Linked DNA regions of Homo sapiens. The protein of the gene in region 2 interacts with the protein of the main gene of each other region in a pairwise test. Each region holds a gene or a part of one and is shown on either strand. Other genes may lie near its edges.

Evidence for each region.
Region 1: the proteins of RAB33B (region 2) and USP6 interact in a two-hybrid assay, tested with the Homo sapiens proteins (one study listed by BioGRID).
Region 3: the proteins of RAB33B (region 2) and RUFY2 interact in binary tests that used the Homo sapiens proteins (3 or more experiments, as listed by UniProt).

What each region holds. Positions count from the first base shown.
Region 1 is NC_000017.11:5,167,985-5,171,808, forward strand, and holds part of USP6 (ubiquitin carboxyl-terminal hydrolase 6), read left to right. Parts: coding exon 1-139; intron 140-782; coding exon 783-1,071; intron 1,072-2,494; coding exon 2,495-2,931; intron 2,932-3,602; coding exon 3,603-3,695; intron 3,696-3,824. UniProt on the Homo sapiens protein: Deubiquitinase with an ATP-independent isopeptidase activity, cleaving at the C-terminus of the ubiquitin moiety. Catalyzes its own deubiquitination. In vitro, isoform 2, but not isoform 3, shows deubiquitinating activity.
Region 2 is NC_000004.12:139,452,162-139,455,985, forward strand, and holds the start of RAB33B (ras-related protein Rab-33B), read left to right. Parts: upstream 1-1,959; 5' UTR 1,960-2,015; coding exon of another isoform or gene 2,016-2,034; coding exon 2,035-2,283; intron 2,284-3,824. UniProt on the Homo sapiens protein: The small GTPases Rab are key regulators of intracellular membrane trafficking, from the formation of transport vesicles to their fusion with membranes.
Region 3 is NC_000010.11:68,405,815-68,409,414, reverse strand, and holds the start of RUFY2 (RUN and FYVE domain-containing protein 2), read left to right. Parts: upstream 1-2,137; 5' UTR 2,138-2,225; coding exon 2,226-2,229; exon of another isoform or gene 2,230-2,552; coding exon of another isoform or gene 2,553-2,661; exon of another isoform or gene 2,662-3,590; coding exon of another isoform or gene 3,591-3,594; intron 3,595-3,600.

The DNA.
Region 1 (3,824 bases), on a different chromosome or scaffold from region 2:
CATCAACCTGGACAGCTGTCTCCGTGCTTTCACCAGTGAGGAAGAGCTAGGGGAAAGTGAGATGTACTACTGTTCCAAGTGTAAGACCCACTGCTTAGCAACAAAGAAGCTGGATCTCTGGAGGCTTCCACCCTTCCTGGTATGTTACGGTCCTGCCTCTGAGAGAGCAGGAATCTAGCATAAAAGAAAGAAGACATGAACAAACAGGAGGTTTTGTTATTTTTGAGAATAAGACTTTTCCTGCAGCAGTGTTTAAAACACATTCTGTACAAGGTTTTTATGTTGAATACAGAGATGAATCTTTCTACAAATATTTGGTAGTTCCTTTTCCTAAAAAGCTCATAACCTAGAAGAAGAGATCAATCATGTAGCCCAGTAACTGCAATTCAGTGCGATGTGAGAACTGCCACAAGGGGTACAACGTGGTGAATGTGAACTTCAGGAGAGGGTGAACTTCTGGCTCTGTGGAGAGAGGAAGCTTAGGCTAGCCCTTTGTGGACTCTAGAAGAGCAACTGAGCCCGGGGGCAATACCCACTGCACATAGTCACGTGGCTGTGGCCACACTGCTGAGTTGAGCGCGTGTGCACAAGGACGCCAGTGCACTAGGGCCTGTGTAGAGGCCTTTATGAAACCATATTTTTGAAGTCTTTAAAAAATAATGAAGAGTAAATGTTCTGTTATATATTTCCAAACATTCACATGTATTTGACTTGTTTTTTCCATGTAAATTTTGTATCTTCAGAACCCTTTAATGCGATGTTTTCTACCTTTACTTCTCCAGATTATTCACCTTAAGCGATTTCAATTTGTAAATGATCAGTGGATAAAATCACAGAAAATTGTCAGATTTCTTCGGGAAAGTTTTGATCCGAGTGCTTTTTTGGTACCACGAGACCCGGCCCTCTGCCAGCATAAACCACTCACACCCCAGGGGGATGAGCTCTCCAAGCCCAGGATTCTGGCAAGAGAGGTGAAGAAAGTGGATGCGCAGAGTTCGGCTGGAAAAGAGGACATGCTCCTAAGCAAAAGCCCATCCTCACTCAGCGCTAACATCAGCAGCAGCCCAAAAGGTGAGGCCTGGGGGCCTTATGCAGTTGCTTTCTTGGGACTCCTGTAGGCTACATATGTTTCTCTGTCTTCTGTTCTGGAACATCAGGTTGGTTGGGTGGAAGGAACCTATCTGGAATCAGACCTATCTGTATTTGAGCTATGTAAGTTGTAGCAAGAGATTCAGCCTCCCTGAATCTATTTCCTCATCTGTAAAATGGAGATAATGCCAGGTTTACAGAGTTGAGAGTTTGACACATGGAGAGTAAAGCACTTCACACAGTGCCTGATGTATGGTAAACAGGAATGGTAGCTGCTGTCTTGTCCCCTTATAGTGAAAGTTCTGAGGTTCCCCATCTTTCAGGGGGTCTAGAGGATCAAAACTCCTTTTTTATTTATTTATTTTATTTTTTGTTTTTTTGAGACAGGGTCTCACTCTGTCACCCAGGCTGGAGTGCAGTGGTGCAACACAGATCACAGCTCACTGCAGCCTGGACCTCCTGGGGTCAATCAATCCTCCCACCTCAGCTTCCTGAGTAGCTGGGACTACAGGCATGCACCACTGCACCTGGCTAATTTTTGTATTTTTTGTAGAGATGGTGCTTCGCCATGTTTCCCAGGCTGGGCTCGAACTCCTGCACCCAAGTGAACCTCCTGCTTCGGCCTCCTAAAGTGCTGGGATTACAGGTGTGAGCCACTGTGCCTGGCCCAAAATGATTTTCATAAAAATACTGAGAAAATATGTGCTTTTTCACTTTTTTTCTCTCACAGATGTACAATGGTGTAAGAGAAAACATGACATGGAATAATATCGTCACTTTGACAGTGAAGTCTGTGCTAATGTATTGTACTTTTTCATTCCTCAGTTTTAATTTCTAATACAGGAAATATTGATAGATAAAATTCACATAAAAGTTCTAAAGGTTCTCAATAATTTTTAAAGGTATAAAAGGGGGTAGGGGTAAGAGGCTATAACTAAAAGGTTTAAAGCCTTGCAGGATTTTTGTGAGACACAGAGGTAACAACGGACAGCAGGAAATTCCCAGTACCATGCCTAACAATAGGAAGTACTCAGTAAATGGTGGTCACATTTTTTGTCTAATTTTACAAAGGAGAGGAATATGTATTTGGAAAACTCCTTACTCTAATAGTTGGATTTTTTTCAACTGAATCATCATAAATCATAATCATCTTTCTGCTGTTTTCTGAGTCCCTATAATGCACTTTACATTTTCAGGACATTGTTGCTTATAGGGACTTGGCATTGAAGAAGACAAAAATGTAACTTACTGGCTACACAATAGGAACCAAAGGGTAGCCAGTCATGACTCCCCTGTCTTTACCTTTGTGTGTACAGTTGCAAAGCTAACCTCGGAGTTAGCATTTGGGGCTGGCTTACTTTCTGGCATTTGGATTTGTGAATCTTTTCTTCTGTCCTGTTCACAGGTTCTCCTTCTTCATCAAGAAAAAGTGGAACCAGCTGTCCCTCCAGCAAAAACAGCAGCCCTAATAGCAGCCCACGGACTTTGGGGAGGAGCAAAGGGAGGCTCCGGCTGCCCCAGATTGGCAGCAAAAATAAGCCGTCAAGTAGTAAGAAGAACTTGGATGCCAGCAAAGAGAATGGGGCTGGGCAGATCTGTGAGCTGGCTGACGCCTTGAGCCGAGGGCATATGCGGGGGGGCAGCCAACCAGAGCTGGTCACTCCTCAGGACCATGAGGTAGCTTTGGCCAATGGATTCCTTTATGAGCATGAAGCATGTGGCAATGGCTGTGGCGATGGCTACAGCAATGGTCAGCTTGGAAACCACAGTGAAGAAGACAGCACTGATGACCAAAGAGAAGACACTCATATTAAGCCTATTTATAATCTATATGCAATTTCAGTAAGTGGTTTATTATACGGTTTTCAGAGAGTGGTCTGTGTTTTGTTCACTTGTCTTCATGTATTCATCAGCAAGTATTTTTCAGGTCCTGCTAATTTCCTAGCATTGAGCTTAGTGATAGACAAAGTTAACATTGAAATCTGGGCTCACAGATGTGGTGTGGTGGCTCACACCTGTAATCCCAGCACTTTAGAAGGCTGAGACAGGAGGATCGCTTGAGCCCAGGAGTTTGAGACCAGCTGCTTGGGCCCCGTCTCTACAAATAATTTTAAAATGGAGCGAGGTATGGTGGCATGTGCCTGTGGTCCCAGCTACTTGAAAGGCTGAGGCAGAAGGATCACCTGAGCCCAGAAGGTCAAGTCTTTAGAGAGTTGTGATCACTCGACTGCACCCCAGCCTGGGTGATAGAGCAAGCCCCTGTCTCAAAATAATAATAATAATAATAGTAATTACAATTATAAAATGATTGTTTATCCACACAAGACTTGGAGCTTATGACTTTTGTATTTTGCTTTTTGCTTATTTTGGTTTTAGAGAAAGAGGGTTCTAAAATATTTTCTCACCTATTGATCATTTACATGATCAGTGTTCTCCTGCTCAGATCTTAGTGCTATACCCTGGCCATAGTACAGTTAACTACTAACATACCTCCACTCTCTTATCTCTTACAGTGCCATTCAGGAATTCTGAGTGGGGGCCATTACATCACTTATGCCAAAAACCCAAACTGCAAGTGGTACTGTTATAATGACAGCAGCTGTGAGGTAAACATTCTCAATCTTTGAATGAAAGTTAGAATATCAACAGAACTGGGGAACATTTGTTGAAATAATGGACTATCTCTTGAATAGGAAATAGATATTTCTGTTAGAATTAATATATAGATGCTGTCA
Region 2 (3,824 bases):
CTCTCACTTCACTGACTTAATTCATTATTTGCTGAATAAACAATAAACTTCCAGTCAGTAGTCAAGAGTTGGCAATCTAGCTGGTAGGACATAACATATAATCATGAAACAGCAAAAACAGTATTCAAAGATTAAATTAGCAATACCCCAAAATGTGTGTTAGAGTTAGCATAAAGAATTTCTGATGTAGTTTACCAAGAGCTAAACTAAAAAGTCCAGAATACAAAAAACAGGGATGCAATGATGTTAGTTTTTTTCACCATCCTTGAAATTCTCCCATTAACCACAGCTCTGAGTTTTCAACTGCTCTTTGTCCTTAAATCTTCAGATTCCCTCCTTTGAATGGGATAGGTAGAGCAGATTAGAAGAAATATATTCCGAGGCTCTCTAATAGTTTCTGGATGATTAACCTTCATGAAAATAACCTCACAGATAAGTAATTAGGATTTTTCAGCCCATTTCTATAAACTAAGTAAACTTTTTTTCTAGTGAACATAACTTGATATATTAGTGACTGTAGAAAGTCTTTCTACAGCAACAGGAATTATATCAAGGCTTTTGCAAATTCCTGGCAACTCCGGGCATGTTTAAGTTCTACTACTCATCTGTTCTGACTATATTTTCATCTGATGGAATAAGCAGTTCATCTCCTTTCCTAGAACTTTTAGTGCTCTACTGTCCCCCTCACTTTAGTTAAGGTCTGCCATGTCCTCCTCTCCGACAGTCCTTGACTTTCCCAATGGCATATTCATCTGCTCAAACAGATGTCACTGCAAAACAAAACAAACTTTTAACAAAAAGCAATGTTTGCATATTTGGGGCCTTTTGTATGACAATATTGCACGTTTCCTCAGAAAAATTCACGGAGATTCTTTAAGGTTGGGGGTTTAATCTATTGATATTTTCCTTAGGTAGACAAAGACAACCTCTAAGTGCGCTCAGTTAATCTTTAACCGCTACATCATCGTCACCCAGGCACTAAGACATAACTAGGGCATAATGAGTTTTATTTCCACCAGGGGCGCCTAGTAACTACCAGGTTCAACGCTCCCAGGTGGCCGACATGTGATGTGCTCTACTGTTTGGGCTGGGGATATTAGCTCAACAAACTCTGGCCACAAGGATCACGCGGATATTCTTGGGGATGCCTAGCGAAATGCGCTGTACCTAGGCCTCGAACTCTCGCCTGCTCTCCGGTGGGCGGTCTCGAACTCCAGCCTGCTCTCCGGCAGCCCACAGCAATGCGCCTGCCAAGACCTTAGGCTGCAAAACTCGCCACGGCCCAGAGCTCGCCTCCAAGTGCGCCCCGCACAGGGCAAGCTTTCGGCGAGGACTCGCGTCCCACCCATCTAGCCCTGGCCGCTGTCCCAACTCCCGCAGTTCACAGAGGCGGCGGCGGTGAGCGCAGCCGATGCCACATCCTCAGCGGCAAGCTGAAGAAACCTGTCTCCTCTCTGGGGCGACCAAACGATACGTCGATGCCGGAACCGACCCGACGCCGGAGCCGTCGGCTCCGTCCTTACCGTTGCTCTCCAGGTACACGCCCCCGTCAAAGGCGGCTCTGCGGCCCTCTCGCGAGAGAGTGCCCGTGGTACCTCCTTCCTCTCAGTTGTCTGTCTCTCCCCGCCCCCGGAGTGATTGCGCGGCTTCCTCCAGAGGGCGGGAACCTTGGACGTGGCGGGGCTGGGTCAGTCAGGGCGCTGGGCCCAGCCTCTCTGCAGGCTGGCCTTCCGCGCTGCCGTGAAGCCCCCGACAGGTCCCACGCCTGCCTAGGTAGACCGGCGCCAGCCCGAGTGACGCCTGGCGTGTGGCCGCGGGCAGGCGGCTCCGTGCGGCGGGGCGGGCGGGTGCCACACCTGTGCGGGCAAGGGCGGGGCGGGAAGGTGCGCAGGCGCGCTCGGGGCTGGTGGGCGGTGGCTCCTGGGAAGTTGCGCAGCCGAACTGGCCGGCTGGGCGCGCGCTCTTGCGGTGGCGTAATCTCTCAGCCTTTCTGTGTCTCCTTTCCTCCGCCTCAGTTTGGGGCGGGTCGGGGGAATGGCTGAGGAGATGGAGTCGTCGCTCGAGGCAAGCTTTTCGTCCAGCGGGGCAGTGTCAGGGGCCTCAGGGTTTTTGCCTCCTGCCCGCTCCCGCATCTTCAAGATAATCGTGATCGGCGACTCCAATGTGGGCAAGACATGCCTGACCTACCGCTTCTGCGCTGGCCGCTTCCCCGACCGCACCGAGGCCACGATAGGGGTGGATTTCCGAGAACGAGCGGTGGAGATTGATGGGGAGCGCATCAAGGTGAGCGGATGGGGAACTGTTGGGGAGGACAGGGTGACAGGTGTCCCAACCCCACCGTGGGCTGGTCGCTGGCCGTGTGCACGGTGTGTGTGCGCTCCATTTTTTTCTCACGCTGATGAGATTGGAGTTGGGGATTGGAAGGATTGCAATACTGCAAACTTCTAAGGCAGCGTTTCTCAGACTTCATTGTGCATGCGATTTACCTGGGGATCTTGTTTTTGAAAATGCAGGCTATGATTTAATAATCTCGCTGATGATGCAGGTGCAGCTAGTCCGTGGACCACACTTTGAGTTCAGGAGTGTAGGGCTTATCTACCGACCCATTTACTGTGTGTGTCGTGTGCTGGGAGTCAGTCAAATATGAACGGAGGAAAAACAGTGAAATTGCGCGAGAATGGAAAATTCATTTAATCAGTAATAGTTATTAAACATTCATTCGAGCAGTGCCTTAGATGTTGTGGAAGTAAAGCCTATTGCCTTTGAGGAAGTACTTAGGTATTCTCTTGCATACAGTTTTGCTGTAGTAGTTTCTTTATGATACTGATTTTAGAAAAATCTATTTTCCTGCAGAAACATTCTATATGTGATAGTTCCTACTCAGGTTGCCAAAAGCATTTCTCATGATGCCACCTCAGACACACGCCCAATTCTTTATTCCCTTTAAGTCGTTATTTTTGGTCCCTGGGACTGGGGACACTGAGTGACAGTAATAGTGGAGAAGGTAGTATAGGCCCCAGGGCAGGTTTGAAGTTCTGAGGGGTTGGAATCTAACAGTGGAATGAGGATCAATGACAAGGCTTAGGCCTCTTGATGGTATAAACCTTAGACACACCTTCATAGCAAGCCACCACTAAATGCCACCTGTTGATGCCACTCCTTAAAACATAGGTGGAACCACCTTGCCTTATACTACTGCTTTAAATCAGCGATCGTCTTTATCTCAGTCTCTTGGTGGGGATGGGGAGTGGTGGGAGAACAGGCTTGCTTTAGACGTTCCTACCCTCGTATCTTAGAGGCAAGAACAATTTATTTTTCAGTTCCCTAATCATCGCCCCCCACCCCAACGGGTTATACTGCTAATGATGGTAGAGGTGAAGTAAGCTGGGTTAAAAGAAATTAACCTTTCTTTGGTGCTTCTGTCTTTTAATTTTTCACATTAGTATTTCATGTCCCATATGAGCTCTCAGTGGTGGTTTTGGAGTTGCTTTGTATTAGGGAATTTAGAAAGATTTGTATACTTGCAGAAGAAAAGATAGAATAAAAGGCTAAACATTTTTCACCAGAATTAGGTTTGGCCCAGAAGCCTTTGGGGTGAAAAATAATGGAGCTTCTGAAGTTCCAAGGGAGTTAAGATTGGGAGAAGCAGGAATCTGGGAAGTACGTGGGCTTTGGAGCCCAACTAACCTGGATTCATATCTGAACCTACGAAAGGGTAGGGATGGGCTGCGTGTCCTTACTAGGGTGACCAACTTTGCCCAAGACTGTCCAGGTTTTAAAACTGGGTCTCACATCCCGGGGACCCCCTGTATTGGGCACACCAA
Region 3 (3,600 bases), on a different chromosome or scaffold from region 2:
TAAATGATAACTCATGAACACAAAGAAGGGAAAAGCAAGACCAGGTGCAGTTGCTCATGCCTGTAATCCCAACACTTTGGGAGGCTGAGGAAGATAGATCACTTGAGCTGAGGAGTTCGAGACCATCCTGGCCAACATGGTGAAACCCTGTCTTAAAAAAAGAAAAAAAAAAAGAAGGGAACAACAGACACTGGAGTCTACTTGAAGGTGGAGGATGGGAGGAGGGAGAGGAGCAGAAAAGATAACCATCGGATACTGGACTTAACTGGGTGATGAAATAATCTGTACAACAAACCCCCATGACATGAGTTCACCTATGCAACCAACCTTCACATGTACCCTCAAACCTAAAATAAAAGCCTAAACAAACACACACACACACACACACACAATAGTTTAGGGAAAAAAGTAATCACAATGCCCCCACCCACACATCATAACTATTAACATTTTCATGTACTTTACTCAGTCTCTTACCTATGCATTTATTTTTCTAACTATGTATATATATCTATATATAGATATATAGATATACCTTCATATTGCTGTATTTATTGATAAACTAAAACTGGGATCATAAGTATATGTCATATATATGTAACTTTTTTTAAAAAATTAAGCACAAAAATACAAATGTTAGCTGGGTGTGGCAATGAGCGCCTGTGGTCCCAGCTACTAGGGAGGCTGAGGTGGGAGGATCACTTGAGCCTGGGAGGCAGAGGTTGCAGTGAGCTGAGATCGCGCCACTGCACTCCAGCATGAGTGACAGAGTGAGACCCTGTCTGAAAAAAATAAAAAATCTCTTCTAGCTAATAGGATATGCCTATCTAATTCCACTTGAGTCACTACTGGCCCTTACGATGACTAGGGCTCATAATCCTGGGAAATGTGAACCAAGATGGATCCAGGGATGAAGTCTGACTTTTTTTTTTTTTTTTTTGAGACGGAATCTTGGGATTACAGGCACGCGCCACCACGCCCGGCTAATTTTTGTATTTTTAGTAGATATGAGGTTTCACCATGTTAGCCAGACTGGTCTCGAACTTCTGACCGGGTGATCCGCCCGCCTTGGCCTCCCGAGTAGCTGGGACTACAGGAACATGCCACTACGTCTGCCTAAATTTTGTATTTTTAGTAGAGACGGAGTTTCACCATGTTGGTCAGGCTGGTCTCGAACTCCTGACCTCGTGATCTATCCAGCTCAGCCTCTCAAAGTGCTGGGATTACAGGCATGAGCCACCATACCCAGCCGAGGTCTGAATTTTAGTGCTTGTGTGGATATTGCTGTGGCACATAATGAAATATTTTTGAATTGTTTTCTCTCTTTTTTCACTTTAGCTTTTTGTAATGAGCTTTACCAAATTGTTTTAGGGCGGGCTGTGTGGCTCAGGCGTTATCCTAGCACTTTGGGAGGTCGAGATGGGCGGATCACCAGGTGAAGAGATCGAGACCACCCTGGCCAACATGGTGAAACCCCGTCTTTACTAAAAATACAAAAATTAGCCGGGCGGGGTGGCGCGCGCCTGTCATCCCAGCTACTCAGGAGGCTGAGGCAGGAGAATCCCTTGAACCCGGGAGGCAGAGTTTGCAGTGAGCCAAGATCACGCCACTGCACTCCAGCCTGGTGACAGAGCGAGACTCCATCTCAAAAAAAAAAAAAAAAAAACAACCCAAAAAACAAAAAAAAGTCGTAATTTGGGACTAACTAGTTTTATTAGGTTTCTGCCTACTGTTAATTGCTTCAGATTTTCTAAATTCTTTTGGTCCCCTTTGTGTTTGTGAAGGTGAATGGGCAGTAGTCAGGCGTGTTAGATCAGGCCCCACCAGCCCGGTGGAAGCAACGTTTGCGTGTGGCCGGCCGCCCCTTGAAATCCGGCCTTCGCGCTCCAGCGAAGCCCCCGGGACACGGGACCGAGGGCCCAGCACTCTGGCTCCTCACACATGTGGTCTCCTTCACGTTCCTTTCCTTCTCCTCGCGGTCCCAGCGGATGCGAGGAGGCTTAGAGACGGCGGGCTTCTCTCCCGCCCGCCGCAGGGTCCGCGGGTCCCCGCCCCGCCCGGGGCGCCGCTCCCCCTGGGGCCGCCCGGGCGCCCTCCCGCCGCCGGGGGCGCTGTGGGCTGCAGCGGGCCTGGCTGCAGATGCGGTGGTGGCCGCCGAGCGCCTGGAAGGAGCTGCTGGACAGGCCGAGGGAGCCTCCGCCCGAGACCGCGCAGCCGCCGCCGCCATGGGTAAGGCGAGCGGGCCGAAACCGAACGCTAGGCCCTCAGTCCCGGGCTGAGGGCCGCGGCCAGGCGGGGTGGACTGGGAGCTGGGGGAGACGCCGAGGCCGCCAGTCGGAACTGGGGCCCGAACCCAGGATGGGCGGGGACTGCCTGGGACTCGGGGGCTCCCGGGGTCGTCATGGCAACGCGCCCCCTCCCTTGTTCCGGCCCGTTCCCGCCCGGGTTCTGAGGCATAGTGGCCGAGGGCTCGAGGTGCCACGGCGTCCAGGAGCGAGGACAGGGCCAGGCAGGGTGTCACTCCCGGGTCGGGGAGCAGGCGGGGAGGGGCGATGACTTTTCAGGTTTGGGGGTGGCGGAGGGAAGACGCATCTCAGGTTTTGGCCTGGGTGCCTGACGCCGAGGGCGGGAGACGGGGAATGCTGACGCGCAGGAGCCTGGGTGAGCCCGCCGCGATGGTCCTGGGGGGCCCCCAGGCCTCTGGGCAGCCTTGCTGGGGGGAGGGGGCAGGAAGAGAGGCAGGGAAGGGGCTCTAGGCCCCGGCAAGGTGCGGGCACTGGCCCTGGTACTCCTTGCGCGCCTGCGGCCGGGTTTGGGGGTCGCGTACGGGCCGGAGAAGTCCTGTAGCGCAGCCGGGGCGTGGCCGCGGTGTGAACGCCCCTCGGCGTGGGAACTGCCGGTGCCCAGCACCGATCTGCCTCCCAGCAGCTGCAAAACACCCTTTGTGTGGTTGTCGCATCGCACGTTAGGAATTATGATGGGCTGTGTTAAAAATGAGAGTTGCCACGGATTATGAAACATGAAGTGGTTTCACTCCCGAAAAATAGTGGGAGTCAGACCACGATGCAGATTTGAAGGAATTCGTGTGTGGACATTTTTCCACCAGGCAGTTTGGCCATAGCAGTTGTGGCTGTTTGCATTTTAGGTTGCTTAGGATTCAGTGTCAGGCTTCATGCCTAGCTATCTAGAAATCGGAGCTGGAATACTAGATCATTGGAGACTCTGGGTTTTTTGTTGTTGTTGTTGTTCAGTGAAGGAAAAACGGGCACATTGATTACTTGTAAATTTGTCAGAGATTATGAAATGTTATACTAAGTGCTTCGTTTTTCCACACCTTAGTTTTGTCATCTGTGTTTGTTGAAGGTATTCCCACCAGTCACAACAGTGATGAGATGATGGGGAAGCGTCTGAATTTCTAAGTAAACTGAGAATAAAATTTGCGGGAAGGAGGACAATATTTTTGTGAATTGAAAATATCTTACTTGATGATACTGTGTCTTAAAAATATCAATTAAAAATCAGGCCTTTTAGAATTTGCATCTATTAACTTGGTATTCAGACTGGCGCTGTGGGCATCCTCAACTGTGTGGATGGGTGAGG